2 linked regions of the Homo sapiens genome follow. The protein of the gene in region 1 interacts with the protein of each later gene in a pairwise test. Each region holds a gene or a part of one and is shown in the gene's direction. Other genes may lie near its edges.

What was found.
Region 2: the proteins of NYX (region 1) and JPH3 interact in binary tests that used the Homo sapiens proteins (3 or more experiments, as listed by UniProt).

What each region holds. Positions count from the first base shown.
Region 1 is NC_000023.11:41,448,528-41,460,703, forward strand, and holds part of NYX (nyctalopin precursor), read left to right. Parts: intron 1-12,176.
Region 2 is NC_000016.10:87,605,504-87,612,507, forward strand, and holds part of JPH3 (junctophilin-3), read left to right. Parts: intron 1-7,004. UniProt on the Homo sapiens protein: Junctophilins contribute to the formation of junctional membrane complexes (JMCs) which link the plasma membrane with the endoplasmic or sarcoplasmic reticulum in excitable cells.

The sequences.
Region 1 (12,176 bases):
CACCGTACGGTGGTTTTTTCTTTTCTTTTCTTTTCTTTTTTTTTTTTTTTGAGACAGAGTCTCACTCTCGCCCAAGCTGGGGAGCAGTGGCATGGATCTTGGCTCACTGCAACCTCCGCCTCCCGGGTTCAAGTGATTCTCGTGCCTCAGCCTCCTGAGTAGCTGGAACTATAGGCACCTGCCACCACGCCCAGCTAATTTTTTGTATTGTTAGTAAAGACGGGGTTTCGCCATATTGCCCAGGCTGGTCTTGAACTCCTGACCTCAGGTGATCTGCCTGTCTCGGCCTCCCAAAGTGCTGGGATTGCAGGCATGAACCACCGTGCCCAGCCTACAGTGGTTTCTAATCACATTATTTTAAGCTCATTTAGTTAAAAACAAAAGTCCCTTTAAAAAACCACCTTCCTAAAGGAAAAAGAAAAAATGAAAAATGCCTTGGAATTATAGGATTATGGATATTGAAGTTATTTTTCAAAGTTTCTCGCTCTGTTATGTGCACTTTAATATACCAAGAAGACTCGTTATGAAATATTTTCCCTGGCTCTAGCTGTTCCAATCTGACTGAGATAGCCCAAGGAAAAATCCTTTAAATTCTTCAGTAAATGATTCTACACAAAGAATCTGTTTTTTTCTGACCCTCAAGTGAATTTAATTATTTGAGATATGATGATCTATGTAATAGACCTCTGTATGCGATGCTGATAGAGAACATTTTACCAGATCATCTAAAACAGGAGTAATGGAGTTTTCTTCCTCTTTATTCCACCTTTTCAAAAACCGGAACTTGCTCTGTTCAGTCAACCAACAGGCATACACTGTGTGCCTTCAAAACGCTCGAGAGATATTTATGAGGGATATAATAGCATGCTCTTTGTCTTTGAGAAAATTCTTTTATAAGAGATTCAATAAATAAGCAATAAAAAAAATTGGAGCAAGGCACGTGGAACACTGTGATAAATAGGACATGACTTCCTACCTCGAAGAGGTTCTAAAGAACAGAGGTTGATATTTATATAATTACTAACAGTCAACTTCTTGCCATTCCTCCTACCTTGAAAAAAAAATGAAACTTGATTGACTCATTGGGGCACAATGTTTGCTTCCAACAGCCAGTATCATTTTAAACGTGCACCAAAAGCTCTACCGTTCCTCACAGAAAGCAGACCGTATTCATAGCCTGCACACTTCAAAACAGGAACTGTCCCTGCTACAGAAACCCGAAATATATCCAGACTTCTTGTGACAAGTTGGAGAGCTCAGCGGTGACATCATTTGCTAACAATAGATGCACTTAAAATTAATGACCATCTCCACATCCCCTGGCACTTTAATTTAAAACACACTCTAGCAAGCACAGAGAATATTTCTCTGACTGCGAGTCACAAGCAATACGGACAATATGTTCCCGAGAAGCAGGCAGGGATAGTGCTCTACCTCCTTGGCCAGAAAGAAAATGACTAAGTGAGCCTCACAAAACAACACCTTGGAGAAATCAGAAGTGGCTCGCAGCAGGGAAATTTGGGGCAAGAGAAATTCTCCTCTGGACACACAGGGCTCCTGGAAGTGCCCCACTTCTCAGATGCATAAGTGCAAATACCTCCACCTCCTCCCCCCATGTTAACCCCTGGGGTCTTCCCGCTGTTCACAGCATAATATCTGAAACCCTTAACTTCTTTTACAGGGTCTTTCACATGTGACTTCCTCTACACTGAGTCTTCAAAGAGAGTCAGGGGTTGTGTGTTTGTGTTTTTTGTGTGTGTTTCTTTTGAGACAGGGTCTCGCTCTGTTGCCCAGGCTGGAGTGCAGTGGCATGATCTCAGCTCACTGCAACCTCTGCCTCCCGGGTTCAAGTGATTCTCGTGCCTCAGTCTCCAGAGTAGCTGGGATGCGCCACCACCACACCTGGTTAATTTTTGTATGTTTAGTAGTGATGGGGTTTCACCATGTTGGCCAGGCTGGTCTTGAACTCATGGCCTCAAGTGATCTGCCTGCCTTGGCCTTCCAAAGTGCTGGGATTACAGGTGTGAGCCACCGTGCCCCACCAAGATTTGCATTTTAAAGGAAGTCTATAGGAAAATAAAATCACAATGAGGTGCCACTCACACAGCTAGAATGGCTACATTTTTTTTTTTTTTTGAGACAGGGTCTCACTCTGTCGACCAGGCTGAAGTGCAGTGGTACTATCTCGACTCACTGCAACCTCTGCCTCCTGGGTTCAAGTGATTCTCATGCCTCAGCCTCCTGAGTAGCTGGGATTGCTGGCGTGAGCCACCACACCTGGCTAATATATATATATATATATTTTTTTTTTTTTTTTTTTTTTTTTTTGGGTATTTTTAGTAGAGAGGGGGTTTCGCCATGTTGGCCAGGCTGGTCTTGAACTCCTGACCTCAAGTGATCTGCCCACCTCGGCCTCCCAAAGTGCTGGGATTACAGGTGTGAGCCACCACGCCCAGCCATAATTTTTGCATTTTTAGTAGAGATGGGGTTTTGCCATGTTGGCCAGGCTGGTCTCAAACTCCTGGCCTCAAGTGACAGGCTCAAGTGAGGCTGCCTCAGCCTCCCAAAGTGCTGGGATTAGAGGTGTGAGCCACAATGCCCAGCCAAGAATGGCTACAATTTAAAACACTGACAACACCAAATGTTGGTGAGAATGTGGAGTAACTGGAACTCCCATACATTGCTGCTGGGAATGTATAATGGTGCAACCATTTTGAAGAACTGTTTCTTAGAAAGTGAAATACATACTTATCATATAACTCAGCCATCCCACTCCTAGATAAATGAGAAACAAAAACACATGTCACAGCTTTAGTCACGATAGGCTGAAACTAGAAGCAATGCAAATGTCCATCAACAGGTGAGTGAATAAACAAATTGAGGCACCTCTATCCAGGGAAATACTGCTCAGCAATAGAAAGGAATGATCAACTGATATTCATGACCACATGGATGAACTTTACAGAAGGTTGTGCAAAATAAGCATTTGATTTCATTTCCTTTTGAGACAGAGTCTTGCTCTGTCGTCCAGGCTGGAGTGCAGTGGTGTGATCTTGGCTCACTGCAACCTCCGCCTCCCGGGTTCACGTGATTCTCGTGCCTCAGCCTCCTGAGTAGCTGGGATTACAGGTGCCCCCCACCATGCTCTGCTAATTTTTGTATTTTTAATAGGCATGGGGTTTTGTCATGTTGGCCAGGCTGTTTTCGAACTCCTGACCTCAGGTGATCCACCTGTCTCGGCCTCCCAAAGTGCTGGGATTGCATGCGTGAGCCACTGCACCCGACCTTGATTTCATTTCTGTAAAGTTCTAAAACAGGCAAAACTAATCTATAGTTCAGAAAGCAGGTCAGTGGTTGCCTGGAGCCAGGGGTGGGAAAAGGACTGAAGTCAAAGGAGCCTGAGGAAACTTTCTGGGTGGTAGAAATGTTTTAAGTCTTTTTGCTGTTGCTGTTGTTGTTGTTCTGAGACAGGGTCTTGCTCTGTTGCCCAGGCTGGAGTGTAGTGGTGCGATTATGGCTCACTGCAGCCTCAACCTCCTGGGCTCAAAGGATCCTCCCACCTCAGCTTCCCGAGTAGCTGGGACTAAATGTGCACCACCATGCCTGGCTAATTTTTGTTTTTTGTTGTAGAGATGGGGTTTCGCCATGTTGCCCTGGCTGGTCTTGAACTCGTGACCTCAAGCAATTCTCCTGCCTCGGCCTCCCAAAGTGCTGGGTGCCCAGCCAGAAATGTTCTAAGTCTTGATTGGGGTGGTGGTTACACAGGCATGTGTACATTTATTATACTTACTGAACTGCACGCTTAAAATGGGTACATTTTATTGTAAGTAAAGTATACCTTAATCAACTTGATTTAAAAGAAAAAATGAAGGCTGGAGGGAGAGAGTGGCTGTACCAGAAGCAGAAAAAATGCTTCACTGTCCACAGTCAGGCAGTGTGGTATATCAGGCAACATGTATGTGAGATTCATCAACGTTATTACGTGGATTAGAGTAGTTTTTCCTTTTGAATGCCTAGTAATATTCATTTGTACAGATTGACTGGTTAGTTTATCCATTCCCCTATTGTCGGGTGTTTGTTTCCAGTTTGAGGTGATTGTTTATATTTAGGCCCGGAGGCCTTTCTGGGGCCTTGCGTTCTTCTCCTTAGATGGGACAGATGTTCATCTTCAAGTTTCACCAGGCCTGCGAGGCTACCAGCACACCACCCCTCTGGAAACATTGACTTCTCCATCCCTTATGACTCACGTTAGCCAGCAAAACTGCAGCTCGAATCCTTTCTTTCCTGTCACAAAAGGTACCTGCATGGGGTGAAAACCAAGTTCTGGGGTCACAGGAGGCCAGAGGCCACAGCATGGTCTCCGCCTCCGCACTTCTGTTTCCTCCAGCCAGTCTTGTTTTGAAGATCCAGCATTGGGTTTTGGTCCGAGGAGCCACTTGGTAGCATTTGCCAAGAATGGAAGGAAAGTGATTTCTAGAGCCAAGGTAGCTAAATAGATTTTGCTGAAACCAGAAATTTGACCATGTTTTCCCTTGCTATTTTTGGTTTCATAAGGCTCAAGTTCTTTTAAAACAATGAGAATAAAGAAACATTCCAATCTCAGTCTGTGGTTGGAAACACCAAGTAGCTGTTCTCCTAGCAAACCTCAAGGTGGGAAAGCACATATTTGAAAAGCCGAGGGCTTAGGAAAGAGAAACTGCTCAGATGGTCTGCATTAGACCTCATTATGCGGGTGCCTGAGGCTGGCCATCCCTGCCTCCTTGCAGCTCGGGGGCTGGCCAGGACACCCGATAGGGACACACAAGCAGGGAGCCATTTCTGGTGTTTATTTTCCCAGATTCAGGGACGCCTTGTAAGATTTTTAAAAAACTGAAGGAAAATTCACACAAGATAAAATTAACCATTAACTATCTTATTTTCTTCTTCTTCTTCTTTTTTTTTTTTTTGAGATAGAGTCTTGCTCTGTCGCCCAGGCTGGAGTGCAGTGGTACGATCTCTGCTCACTGCAACCTCCGCCTCCCAGGTTCAAGCTATTCTCATGCCTCAGCCTCCCGAGTAGCTGGGACTACAGGCATGCACCACCATGCCCAGCTAATTTTTATATTTTTAGTAGAGATGGGGTTTCACCATGTTGCCAAGGCTGGTCTTGAACCCCTGGACTCAAGCAATCTGCCTGCCTTGGCCTCTCAAAGTGTTGGGATTATAGGCGTGAGCCACCGTGCCAGGCCTTCATTCCTTTTTAAGGCCAAATAATATTCCGTTGTATAGTTATGCCACATTTGCTTATCCATCCATTGGCTGATGGACATTTGTTGTTTCTACCTTGGGCTGTTGTGAATAATGCTGCTGTGAACGTGCATGTGCAACTGTCTCTTTGAGACCTTGCTGTCAATTCCTTTAGGCATATGCCTAGGCATGGAATTGCTAGGTCATATACTAACTCTACATTACACTTTGTAACTCTTTATATCACACAGATGAATCCCATTTTTATAAAATTGGTGCATCTAGACCTTTGATTTTTGACTTTGGCTGCATATGGTAATCACCTGTGGAGCTTCAAACATACCAATGCCTGATCCCACCCCTGAAGATTCTGATGTAATTGATCTGATGTATGGCCTGGGCACTGTGAGTTTTCAAAGCTCCACAAGGTGATTCTAATGTTCAGCCCTGGAAATGAACCATCCTAGACTCCAGACTCCTCTTTACAGCCTATCCCTAGTAATAGCTTCAGTATTCTGACAACTGGTGTCTTGCTTTCCATTCTAGGGCAGATTTCCACATGGTCCCTTTTTTTTTTGAGATGGAGTCTCACTCTGTCGCTCAGGCTGGAGTGCAGTGGCGTGATCTCAGCTCACTGCAACCTCCGCCTCCCGGGTTCAAGCAATTCCTCTGCCTCAGCCTCCGGAGTAGTTGGGACTATAGGTGCATGCCACCATGCCTGAATAATTTTTTGTATTTTCAGTAGAGACGGGGTTCACCATATTGGCCAGGCTGGTCTTGAACTCCTTACCTTGTGATCCACCTGCCTCAGCCTCCCAAAGTGCTGGGATTACAGGTGTGAGCCACTGCGCCCGGCTGATCCTTTTTTTTTAAGATGGGCTCTCACTCTGTCACCTAGGCTGGAGCGCAGTGGCACAGGCACAGCTCACTGTAGCCTCGACCTCCTTGGCTCAAGCAATCCTCCCACCTCAGCCTTCCAAGTAGCTAGGAGTACAGGTGTGCATCACCACGCCTGGCTAATTTTTGTATTTTTTGTAGAGATGAGGTCTTGCCATGTTGCCCAGGCTCATCCTGAACTTCCGGGCTCAAGTGATCTTCCCACCTTGGCTTCCCAAAGTGCTGGGATCACAGGCATGAGCCACTGCACCTGGCCTCCACATGGTCTTTGAAGGATTTGTGCCTTAGTGAGGTTTAATCCTGTGACAAGAATGGTTCATAAGAGCCCACAACTAGCTTGGGCCAGTGTTTTCACAGCTGTGTCAAGCAACGAGACACATCTGTCCCCCATAACTGTCTACAAATTACAGATGAGGAAACTGAGAGACAGAGGTTGTCTGAGGTTTTTGTTTTTTTGTTTTTTTTTTTCTTTTGAGACAGAGTCTCACTCTGTTGCCCAGGCTGGAGTAAAGTGTTGCAATCTCGGCTCACTACAACCTCCGCCTCCTGGATTCAAGTGATTCTCCTGCCTCAGCCTCCTGAGTAGCTGGGATTACAGGCGCCCACCACCATGCCCGGCTAATTTTTTGTGTTTTTAGTGGAGACAGGGTTTCACCGTGTTGGTCAGGCTGGTCTCGAACTCCTGACCTCAGGTGATCTGCCTGCCTCGGCCTCCCAAAGTGCTGGGATTACAGGCATGAGTCACTGCGCCCAGCCTGAGGATTTTTTTTTTTTTTAAAGCAGTATGACAGAACAGGGATGAGAGTGTCCTCAGAGTTTATGAGAGAACTAGGTCAAGAGGCTGTGCCCTCGGGGTGAGTATTTTAAGACCGAATGTTCTGGAAAGCCTTGCATGTGAATCCCGGGGTGATGACAGAGGCTGGCTGAGTAGGGACCTGTCATGAGCCCAGGGCAGTCCTGCTACATTTATTTCTCATCTTCCCCTCCCTACCTCAGACTGGGAAAAAAAAGCTCTGAAGCCTTTTTCCGATTTCCAGATGGATCCTTCCCCAAAATACCGGTGCAAGAAGAGAAATTGCTAAGCAACTGCCAAATGAGTTTCACCTTCTCTTTTCACAAACTGTAATCTTTATTTTTAATGTGGTAAATGTTTTTCTGGCCAAGGTATTCCCATGGAACCCAGCTCTGAATAGCCAAGGAGATTCGTTTTTGGAATGATCACTGCTGATTCTGGGAGAGGCTATTTTTTCATTTGGATTCAGCAAAACCAGGGATGTCCTAAACAGTGTTTGATTTGATGTTATGTATTTCCTGTCAGCGAATGGGGAGCAGTTTCCTTTTGGTTGAGGGGTGCTGCATGGTCCTGAATTTGAGTTGTTTTCTCTGCCAAGGTGAAGAGGTCACTGGCTGGGTGCGGTGGCTCATGCCTGTAATCCCAGCACTTTGGGAGGCTGAGGAGAGCGGATCACTTGACTAGGCGGTTCAAGACCAGCCTGATCAACATGGTGGAACCCCGTTTCTACTAAAAATACAAAAATTAGTTGGGCGTGATGGTGCGTGCCAGTAGTCCCAGCTACTTGGGAGACTAGGCAGGAGAATCGCTTGAACCCGGGAGGCAGAGGTTGCAGTGAGCTGAGATCCTGCCATTGCATCACGTGGTTCTTCAGGAAAAGGAGGAGAGGCCAGGAAGAGGGAGATGGTTCTAGAGAGATTAAGGGAGCCTGTCTGATTCAGGATATTGCTCAGGACTCTTGTTGCAAAGCATCTTCTCTAGGTCATTGAAGGCAAGAAGGAGTTTACTTAGGGACATTAGGTATTCTCAGGCTTCCTACTAGAGGCCACACTGCCCAGAGCAATGCCTAAACCAGGAAGTGCACAGCTCCAGCAAAAATCCTGTGGCCACTGCCATTGGTGGCCATACCTGGCAGCTCCAGGGAATCATGTTGGGTACTGGGTGCCAGAAATGCAAGCCTAAAAGCCTCTGCCATCATTCTGGCCAGACATTGGTTTCTGCCTGGTGCCTACTTCTGAATCCAAGTCTTACTGGGTGTTTGATTGACAAAGCTATGTCACATGCCTGAGCCCTAACTGTAAAGGGAGTTGAGAAAGAGAGTTTCCGGCTTCCATCTTGAGGAGGCAGGACGTATGATGTTGGAAATTCTCTAAATGTAGAAAGAGTGCTTAAAAGGTACTCAGGAGCCAGAACACATGCTATGGTCTGAATGTTTCTGACCCCCATTCCCCACCCAATTCATATATTGAACCCAACTCCCCAAGATGATGGTATTAGGAGGTGGCGCCTTTAGGAGGGGATTAGGTCCTGAGAGTGGAGCCCTCATGAATGGAATTAGTGCCCTCATAAAAGAGGCCTCAGAGGCCAGGTGTGGTGGTTCATGCCTGTAATCCCAGCACTTTGGGAGGCTGAGGCGGGTGGATCACCTGAGCTCAGGAGTTCACACCAGCATGGGCAACATGGTGAAACCCCATCTCTATTAAAAATACAAAATTACCTGGGCATGGTGGCGCATGCCTGTAATCCCAGCTACTCGGGAGGCTGAGGCAGGAGAATCGCTTGAACCCGGGAGGCGGAGGTTGCAGTGAGCCGAGATCGTGTCATTGCACTCCAGGCTTGGGCAACAAGAACGAAACTCCATCTCAAAAAAAAAAAAAAAAAAAGGCCTCAGAGAGCTCCCTTGCCCTTTCTACCACATGAGAACACAGTGAGAAGACAACTGTCTATGAACCAAGAAGTGGGCCCTTGGCAGACGCAGAATCTGCCTTGCTCTTGGATTTGCCAGCCTCCAGAACTGTGAGAAATCAATTTCTGTTGTTTGTAAGCCACCGAGTCTACGGTAGTGTGTTATGGCAGCCTGAACTGATTAAGACAATACACCAGCTTCTTCACCTTGCCCTTGGCTCCTGCTCCCCCATAACTTTGACCTGCACATGGCTTTGGTACAAACTCCAGCCCCAAAGCTAGACAGGTTGGTGCTCACATCACCTTACTGACTAGTTATTCACTGCCTATTCCATTTTCACGGAGAAAGAATGAATCTGATTAGCTCTGTTTAGGTCAAAGTGTTCAACTGCGGTGCAAACAGCTGTGGTTGGGAGGAGATGGCAGAGACACATGGGGCTCTGAGTAGGGTATTTTTTTCTTAGAGGCAGTGGCTGGCAACACCTGCTGTCAGACCGTGGAAAATGAAAGCTACAAGGGCTCTCAAAGACCAGGATGTGCAGTGTCTTAGTCTATTTCGTGCTGCTGTAACAATACTAGAGACTGGGCAATTTATAAAGAACAGATATTTATATCTTACATTTCTGGAGGTTGGGAAGTCCAGGATTGAGGGGCTCACATCAAGTAAAAGCCTTCCTGCGGCGCCATCCCATGGTGGAAGGTGGAAGTGTGAGAGAGCAAGATGGGGCTGAACCTGCTTTTATTACAAATCTACTTTTGCAATAATAACATTAATTCCTTCATGAGAGCAGAGGCCTCACGACCTAACCACCTCTTAAAGAGCCCACCTCTCAACACTACTGCAGTGGGGTTTAAGTCTCCAACACGTGAACTTAGGAGGACATATTCAAACCATAGTATGCAGTTTCTTCAGTTTACAGTTAAAGCAATGAAATCTCAGAAAGGCTAGGTGTGTGGGGTGGGAGATAGTACAGTATAGTGAAAAACAAACAAAGGTTGGCATCATTTAACCGTCCTGAACCTCAGTTTCCTCTTTCATGAGAAGAGAAGAATAATCCTTATCTTGCATGGCTGTCATATTAAATGGAATAATGTCTATGGCAAGCTTAGCCCTGAGCAAATTCTTTTTGAGACGGAGTCTCACTCTATTGCCCAGGCTGGAGTGCAGTTGTATGATCTTGGCTCACTGCAGCCTCTGCCACTCGGGTTCAAGTGATTCTCCTACCTCAGCCCCTCTCCCCCTGAGTAGCTGGGACTACAGGTGCGTGCCACCATGCCCAGCTAATTTTTGTATTTTTAGTAGAGATGGGGTTTCACCATGTTGGCCAGGCTGGTCTCAAACTCCTGACCTCAAGTGATCTACCCACCTCAGCCTCCCAAAGTGCTGGGATTACAGGCATGAGCCACCACACCCGGCCCTGAGCAAATTCTTATTAAAAGCTGGTTGTTGGCCAGGCGTAGTGGCTCACGCCTGTAATCCCAGCACTTTGGGAGACCAAAGTGGGCAGATCACTTAAGGTCAGGAGTTCGAGACCAGCCTGGCCAACATGGTGAAACCCCGCCTCTACCAAAAATACACAAAAAATTAGCCAGGTGTGGTGGCAGGTGCCTGTAGTCCCAGCTACTTGGGAGGCTGAGGCAGGAGAATCACTTGAACCCGGCAGGTGGAGGTTGCAGTGAGCTGAGATGGCGCCACTGCACTCCAGCCTGGGCAACAGAGCGAGACTCCGTCTCAAACAACAACAACAACAACAACAAAGTTCGTTGTTTTAAGAGCAAAAGAAACCCATACAATTTAATTAATTTGAGTAGCATTATACATGTTCATATTACCCAGATAACATATGTTACCACAGTACCTAAACTATGTCCTGTAGATATTTGCTGTCATTTGGGGGTGCTTCCATCTGTAGGTCTTGTTCTGTTGAGCTGCCCCGAGCCACTCCCAGCAGCTCTGTTCTAGGACTGCACGTAAATGTCATCATATAGGCTGGGTGTGGTGGCTTATGCCTGTAATCCCAGCACTTTGGGAGGCCGAGGCAGGTGGATCTCCTGAGGTCAGGAGTTCGAGACCAGCCTGACCAACATGGTGAAACTCCATCTCTACTAAAAATACAAAAATTATCTGGGTGTGGTGGTGGGCGCCTGTAATCCCAGCTACTCGGGAGGCTGAGGCAGAAGAATCACTTGAACCCAGGAGGCGGAGGTTGCAGTGAGCCGAGATCATGCCACTGCACTCCAGGCTGGGCAACAGAGCAAGACTCTGTCTTGGGGAAAAAAAAAGAAAAGAAAAAAGAAAACAAAAAGTCATCGTATAGTATGTTTCTTTTGTGTCAAGTTTCTGTTAACATGTTTTTATTGCTTGTATCAGTAGTTTGTTCCTTTTATTGCTGAGTAGTATTCTACTGTACAAATAAATTATAATTTATTTCTCCATTCTACTGTTGGGTAATTTCTACTTTTTATCAATTATAAATTAGCCTCTATGAACACTCTTCTATAGTCTTTTTGTGGACTTTTTTTTTTTTTTTCATTTCTCTTGGGCAAATACCTAGGAGTGGAATTGCTGAGTCATATGATAGGCATATATTTAGCTTTAATAGATATTGCCAAAGTTTTACAAAGCTATTGAGCTATTTTACACTCCCATTGACTATGTGAAAGAATCTAGTTGTTCTCCATCCTCATCAACATATGGGGTTATCAGTCTTTTGAATTTTAGCAGAAAATCTCACTGCAGTTTTAATTTGCATTTCTCTGATGGCTAATGATGCTGAGCACCTTTTCATGTGCTTAATGGCCATGTAATATATTCTTTTTCTTTTTTTTTTTTTTTTGAGACAAGGTTTCACTTTGTCACCCAGGCTGGAGTGCGGTGGTGCCATCTTAGCTCACTGCAGCCTCTGCCTCCTGGGTTCAAGCGATTCTCCTGCCTCAGCCTCTTGAGTAGCTGGGATTACAGGCACCCGCTACCACATCCGGCTAATTTTTGTATTTTTAGTAGAGACGGGGTTTCGCCATGTTGGCGGGGCTGTTCTTGAACCCCTGACCTCAAGTGATCTGCCCACCTCGGCCTCCCAAAGAAGTGTTGGGATTCCAGGCGTGAGCCACCGCACCCAGCCTATTCTTTTGTTAAGCATTCAAGTCTTTTATCCATTTTTTAAAAATAAATTTTAAAAAATTTTATTCTTTTTCTTTGCTGGCAAAGTGAAAGCAATCACCGATTTTTACTTAGTTGTCTTTTCATTATTCATTTGTAGGAGTTATTTTTACATTCTGTATAGTCATATATATAACACATACATACATACATACAATTCATATTTAAAGTGTATCCTCACGAAACCATCACCTC
Region 2 (7,004 bases), on another chromosome or scaffold:
GGCGATTATGTTGTGACTTTTTAGGGAAGAAAGGATCTGATTCTGTGGCTGGCCGTGTAGTTTAGGATCTGACGGGTTAAGGGGAGAGATGTTTTTCTCTATAGGTCCACTTCCCTGGGCTCTCCACTCCAGCCAGACAGCTCCCTCAGCATCCTGCTCCCCTAAGCCCTTCCCCTCCTTGTGGTCCTGCCTGATCATGTCCATTCTACAGATGAGGCCAGTAAGGCCCGGGCTTTGTGATTCAGGAGTCCCAGCCTTTGGCTGCAGGGATCCCCGATCTGTCTGGGACCAAACCCCCCTCGTTCTTGCATCACATTGCCGGAAGAAGCCCAGATTGTCAACATCCTCTCAAGGGGTATGCGGTTCTTAGCTCTCCCATAAGCAAAGCCAGGCAGGGATGCAGATGGGGAGCTTCATGGCCGGCTCTCCCTTTTGGTTGGCAACATGGCATGACAGGAAATAGAATTGACCCTTCTGGTCTTGAGGACTCGGGCCTGGACATCTGGGCCACTTTTCTGGAGGGCTCCCAGCTTCCTGTTGGGAAGGGGGTGATTATGGCACTGAGTGTCCCCAGGCAGCCCATGGAAGGAGCCTGCAGGGTGTGGGGATCGCCAGAATGGGGCAGAGACCTCCATGCCTCCTTCCCAGTCAACTGGTGGGTGGTGACAGCCATGTCGCAGTGAGGAAGGAGTTAATGGCCCCAGCTCCACTCTGACTTTTCCTTTGCACAAGAAGTGGGGGAATATTGGGCAGCCATCAGCGAAGCTCTGGAACCTCAGCCCAGCTCTGGGCGCTGACTTGGGGAAATGGCGATTTTCATGAATGATGCACCAGCGGCCAGCGTATTCCACATGTAGCTGGAATTGGTGTGGAATTTCAGCTGGGGACACCTGTGCCAACTCCTCCTCCTCCAGGTGTGTCCTCCCCTTAGGGTACTCCCTGATTGAGCTGAGTAGCTCCTACCGTCTGCATGGTGAGGCCTGGGGGTGTGGGGTACAGGCACACTTGCTTCCAGTCACAACCCCAGCTTGCATCCTGGGCTTGAATCCCTGCCCTACATGCCCTGTTTTGTGACCCTGGTTGGATTACTTAACCTCTCTGAGCTTGTTTCTTCATCTTTACAAAAGGTTGATAACAATACCTGTAAGGTGGGTGAGGATTAATTGAGAATGGTGTGCGTGGCTATGCCAGGAATATAGTAAGCATACATTATTATTTACCGTTAGTTTTTTCATTACAGTTTCCAGGCAATGCATGTCACTTACAATGATCATTATTAGAACCAACATCTGGACAGGAGACTGGTGATCATGTAAATGATGTTAAATAGCAACATTAGATACTTACTGTCTGCCAAGCATGTGGCAAGTGTTAAATGAATTACAGCCCTTAATTCTTACACCTCTAGAGGGTGATTTTCTTGTTATTCTCATTTTCCACACTGGGAAGTGGAGGCTCCCAGTGGGTGTGGGTTGGGAGGAACCAGCAGGCGTCACACTCAGGACAGCCATCCCAGAGCCTGGGCCTTTGCTAGGTACGTCGCTCTCTAAATGCCCCTGTGCAAAAACACCTCCTGTTCTTTCCTCTCGTTTATATCTCTCGTTCTCTTGTGCGTACAGTGGCCCAGAATTGCAGGTGAATGCCCATGCACAGACGGGCAAACCCATACACTGCCCAGGACCCCTGGCCCCCTGAGGCCCACCATGCATGCCGGTGCTGCACCGCACAGGTATAGATCTTTCCTTCGGGTGCTGTGTACACAGAACCCCTCGAATCGAAAGTTACCCCCTCCAATAAGCCCTCCTACACCCTGAAAGATATGAGTCATCTCACGCCCAAGCCTCTCCCCCTCATACTCAGGTCCCGTTCACCGGCCCAGATTCCTCAACCCACACAAATCACACACACCCACAGTCGGAATTCAGATCCCCCCAGGCGCCTGCGCACACACACGCGCACAAAACACCTGCCACCCGGAGACATTTTCCACCCCGTCCCCCAGAACGCAGCCACTGCGCCCTTGCGGCCTTGCTTGCTCTCCACTGGCCAAGGACTCTGAATCTCCACCAGGCCTGTAAACGGGGAGCTCAGATGACAGAGGCAGTGGTGTGCTTCGTTTCCATTTTAAACACACGTTTATGCTGTTAGTGCCCTTTTAGGGAGAAAAATCCCTCATCTCAACAAAATAAACTACCATGGGGCGTATGCTTTGTGCTTGGCTATGACTATGACTATGCAACAAGTAATTTCTTTTTCAAATGAGTGCCCAGGTTAGAAGGAATCAGGTTCATTGGTGCGGAGATTATGCCAACAGAAACTCATTTCAGAAACAAGAAGCAAGCCCTGAGCAGTTGGAGACGAAAGCGTTTTCTCCGAGATTCTCTTTCCGCTACTTCGGGGGGCGGGTGGTGAAAGGCTCCGTAAGGTGAAAAGAGAAAGGAAGAAGCAAACAGCTATTTTTTTGTTGCCAGTTATAGCTGAGAAACAAATGTGGCTGAAGGGCACCCCTACCCACGTTGGCCGTGAGGCCGTTTGATGGGCTTTGTGTGAGGAATCCTGAGATGAGCTGGCCGGGGAGTGAGGACCGGCACCCGCCTACAGCAGCGATCTGGAGTAGTGAGTGAGCAGCCCCAGCTGACACAGAGAAGGAGAGAGAGAACTCTGACCCCTTCTCTTCTGAGGACACCCAGCCGGAGAGAGCAAGAAGGGGTGGAGTGTGGGGGTGGGGGCAGGAGCCTCTGCTGTTCCTTTCCAAGACTTTTTCTTCCTGTTTTCCCCAAGCCTCCACAACTCTAAATATGACGAGCTCTCAACTGTGAGCTAATAATGTTGAATGTAACGCCCTTTGTGTCCTTAGATGACAAAAAGACTTGTGAGTACTAGAGGAGAGGGTGATGTTGGTGTGAATTTTCCACATTGGTCCGTGTCTCCGTGGACTGGCCGCTTCCCCCGCTGGTAGCTTCATGGCTGTGAGAGGCCATGCGGTGGATGGAGCCACCGCTGCACTGGGGTCCTGGCTCGAACTTGAGTAAGGTGCTGTCTTCCAAGTCTGGAGAGGAGAGGAGGAGAGAAGAGAGGCAGTCCCTTCAGCACCTTGGAGAGCGCTCCCGGCTGCCTGCCTGGGTTGGGTGGACGGCTGGACTCACTTTCGCTCTAGGCATCCTCTTCAAGCCAAACCATCTCTCCTTGCCAGTGACCGCCTGGTCCCGGACCCTCCAGCACACTCAACCACCAGAAGTGTGCCTATGCCTGTGCCAGATGTGGGGGCCACGCCTGCGATCCCAACACTTTGGGAGGCCGAGATGGGAGGTTCACTTGAGCCCAGGAGTTTGAGACCAGCCTGGGCAACATTGTGAGACCCCCGTCTCTACAAAAAATACAAAAATTAGCCAGGTGTGGTGCTGCACGCCTGTGGTCCCACCACTCAGGAGGCTGAGGTGAGAGGATCGCTTGAGCCCCGGAGGTCAAGGCTGCAGTGAGCCAAGATGGTGCCACTGCACTCCAGCCTGCTGACAGAGCCAGACCCCATCTCAAAAGAAAAAGAAGAAGTGTGCCTGGTCCTACTCAGTCGGTGCATGGATTCCATGCTCCAGGAAGGGCTGCCACTTGGCATGCCTGCCTATGTTTTCACCCCTACCCTGTCAGTCCTTCCTGAAGAAGTGAGTGTCTTCTGAGGTAACATCCTCTGCTGGTCAACTGGGAGAGCAGCTCCCAGCTTGTGGAGGTGGGTTTGGGGGTGAGACTTTATTTTTTTGTTTTTATTTATTTATTTATCTGTTTTGAGATGGAGTCTCACCCTGTAGCCCAAGGTGGAGTGCAGTGGAGTGATCTTGGCTCATTGCAACCTCTGCCTCCTGGGCTCAAGTCATTCTCATGCCTCAGCCTCCCGAGTAGCTGGGATTACAGGCATACACCACCACACCTGGCTAATGTTTTGGGTTTTAGTAGAGACAGTGTTTTGCCATGTTGGCCAGGCTGGTCTTGAACTGAACTCAGGCGATCTGCGTGCCTCGGCCTCCCAAAGTGTTGGGATTACAGGTGTGAGCCACTGTGCCCGGCCTAGGGTGAGACTTTAGTAAGATGTATAGAAGTTGCTCTGAAGTCTAAGGTGTATTCCTGCCATAGGATATGTGTGTTCACTTCTCTTGGAGCATAACAGGGGTCATAGGTGCACAGCCGAAGGCAGGCAGAGGAATGATTTGTCTGTACCAGTCAGTGAAACTGTTTCACCACCATTCTCTTTACATCTGCCTCAATGGGTGAGTCCTCTAGACCAATGGTCCCCAACCTTTTTGGCACCAGGGACCTGTTTCATGGAAGACAATTTTTCTACCGCCCAGGGTTGAGGGATGGTTTTGGGATGATTCAGGCGCATTCTATTTATTGTGTGCTTTATTTCTATTATTATTACATTGTAATATATAGTGAAGTAATAATACAACTCACCATCATGTAGAATCAGTGGGAGCCCTGAGTTTGTTTTCCTACAACTAGACGGTCTCATCTGGGGGTGATGGGAGATAGTGACAGATCATCGGACATTAGATTATCATAAGGAGTGTGCAAACTAGGTCCCTGGCATGAGCAGTTTCCAGTAGGCTCTGCATTCCTATGAGAATCTAATGCTGCTGCTGATCTCACAGGAGGCAGAGCTCAGGCAGTAATGCAAGCGTTGGAGAGCGGCTGTAAATACAGACGAAGCTTCACTTGCTTGCTTACTCACTCGCCACTCACCTCCTGCTGTGTGGCTGGGTTCCTAACAGGCAACGAACCAGTACCAGCCACATTTCACGGGCTCAACAGCCACCTGGGACTAGTCGCCACCATATTGGACAATGTAAATCCAGAACATTCCATCAGTGCAGAAAGCTTTATTGGGCAGGCAGCACTGGTCTGGAGTGTAAGTTCCATATGGGAAGCGGTTTGTGTCCATGCTGGTCACTGCCATGTGCCCAGTGACTAAAATGGTGCTGGCACGTGGTGGTCAATAAATATTTGTGGAATGAATGACCTGTGCAAGTAAATGCGGTAGTATTTGGTAATTTTGTTTACCGTCATTATTTCGTATGCCTGTTTCATTGCAAGACCTTAGAATTGGACGTAGTTAAAGGAAAGTTTTTCCGTGAGACCCTCATGTCCACAGGTCAGTCTCCCTTTACAATTAGCATTAAAACATGCCTGTTCTAATTCCTTGATCAGTTTTGTTTTGTGGTTGGCTTTGTCATTGCTCCTTAAGAGACTGCCAGTGTTTCATATGAGAAAGATGATGGTGTTGAATGCAGTGAATAATGGAGCGATACCAGCAGTCATGACTGGGAGGCATTTTTGGACCACGATTTAATGAGTAGCATTCATTGCAAAGTGCAAAGAAAGGCCCATGGAAAGATGAGTACCCTCCAGTCTGCTTAATTCCTCACTATCTTTTTACTGCTCCCTTTTCCTTGGCTTGATTCGTTCAGTCATTGGAGAAGCATTTGCCAAGTTCAGACCGTGTTCAAGGCACAAAGACAGAAAAGCTCAGGTCCAACCTCAGTGAATCAGCCTTAAGTATTTGCTGAGCATTGAGTATGTACGCAGTACAGAGTTTGTGGTAACGTGGAAGATTGGAAAAAAAGAAACAAACACATAAAAATGAAAATGCAAGAAATAGGATGTCCTATGTTCTACCAGGAAGAATAAGGAGTCTGAACAGGGATGCAAAACCGAGATATATGGAATAATTCAGGGTTTCTCATGCCACAGTGGGGGTCCTGAATGGGAGCACCACAGGGCAGGGACCTGAGGAGGGGCAGGGCAGGTGTGTGTGTCCCTGAAGGAGCGGCAGAGGCTTCTGGGGGTAGGCAGTGCCTGAGTTGAGTCTGGAAGGGCAGTAGGGTGAGAGTTGTTATCCCAAGCCTGAGGCTGCAGATTTGTTCGAGGCCATGTCTCCCTCAGCCTCAGCTTCCCCATCTCTATGATTTAGTCATGACATTTTTTTCCTTCTCAACATGTGCCATCTCCCTCCTACCTATGAATGTCACGGGTATTGTTCTGGACCCAGGGAAGGCTCGCTGGTGCAAATGCTTTCCAAAAACACCGAGAGTCGCTCTCTCTGCTGCTGGTGGAGTCTGAGTTGGGCAGGACATGGGCCCGCCTCTGTCTGCTGCTCTATGCCAGTGCTTCCCAAGCCTGAGTGTTACAAGAACCACCTGGAAGGTGTGTCAAGACACAGATTTCCAGCCCCACCCCTGAGTCTCTGGGCCTGGGATGCCACCCAAGAATTTATATTTCTTACAAATTTCAGGCGATGCTGAGGCTGCTGATCTGGGGACCTCACATTAAGAACCACAGTCCTGGGCTTGTGCCTCCTAAGCCTGGCTACACATTCGAGTCACTAAGAATGTCCCTGGGAGACGGTTAGAAATGCAGCGTGTCAGGCCTGCCTGACCTCCAGGGTCAGGATGTGTGTTTGGAGATGCTCAGGTGGCTGCAGTGCAGGAGATCCTGCTTTGGTGCACTCACTTTAACCCTAGCTGTGCATGAGCTTCATCTAGGTTGCTTTAGAAAATGCAGATGCCCGGGCCCCACCCACAGGTGCTGATTGAGGTCCTCTGGGTACAGCCTGGGCATTGGGATTCTTTTTATTTTAATTTTTTTCAGACGGGGGCTGGCTCCGTCTGTCGTCCTGGCGTGCAATAGTGTGTGATCGTGGCTCACTGCAACCTCTGCCTCCTGGCCTCAAGCCATCTTCCCACCTCAGCCTCCTGAGTAGCTGGGACTGCAGGCATGCACCCCCATGCCCAGCTAAGTTTTGTTATTTGTTGTAGAGATGGGGTTTTGTCGTGTTTCCCAGACTGGTCTCAAACTCCTGAGCTCAAGCGATCCGCCCACCTTGGCCTCCTGAAGTGCTTTTACAGGTGTGAGCAACTTTTTTACAGGATTACAGGTGTGAGCAACTGCACCTGGCCTGAGATTATTTTTTAAACATTCCAGGTGATTCTAACGTTCAGCGCAGGTTGAGGACC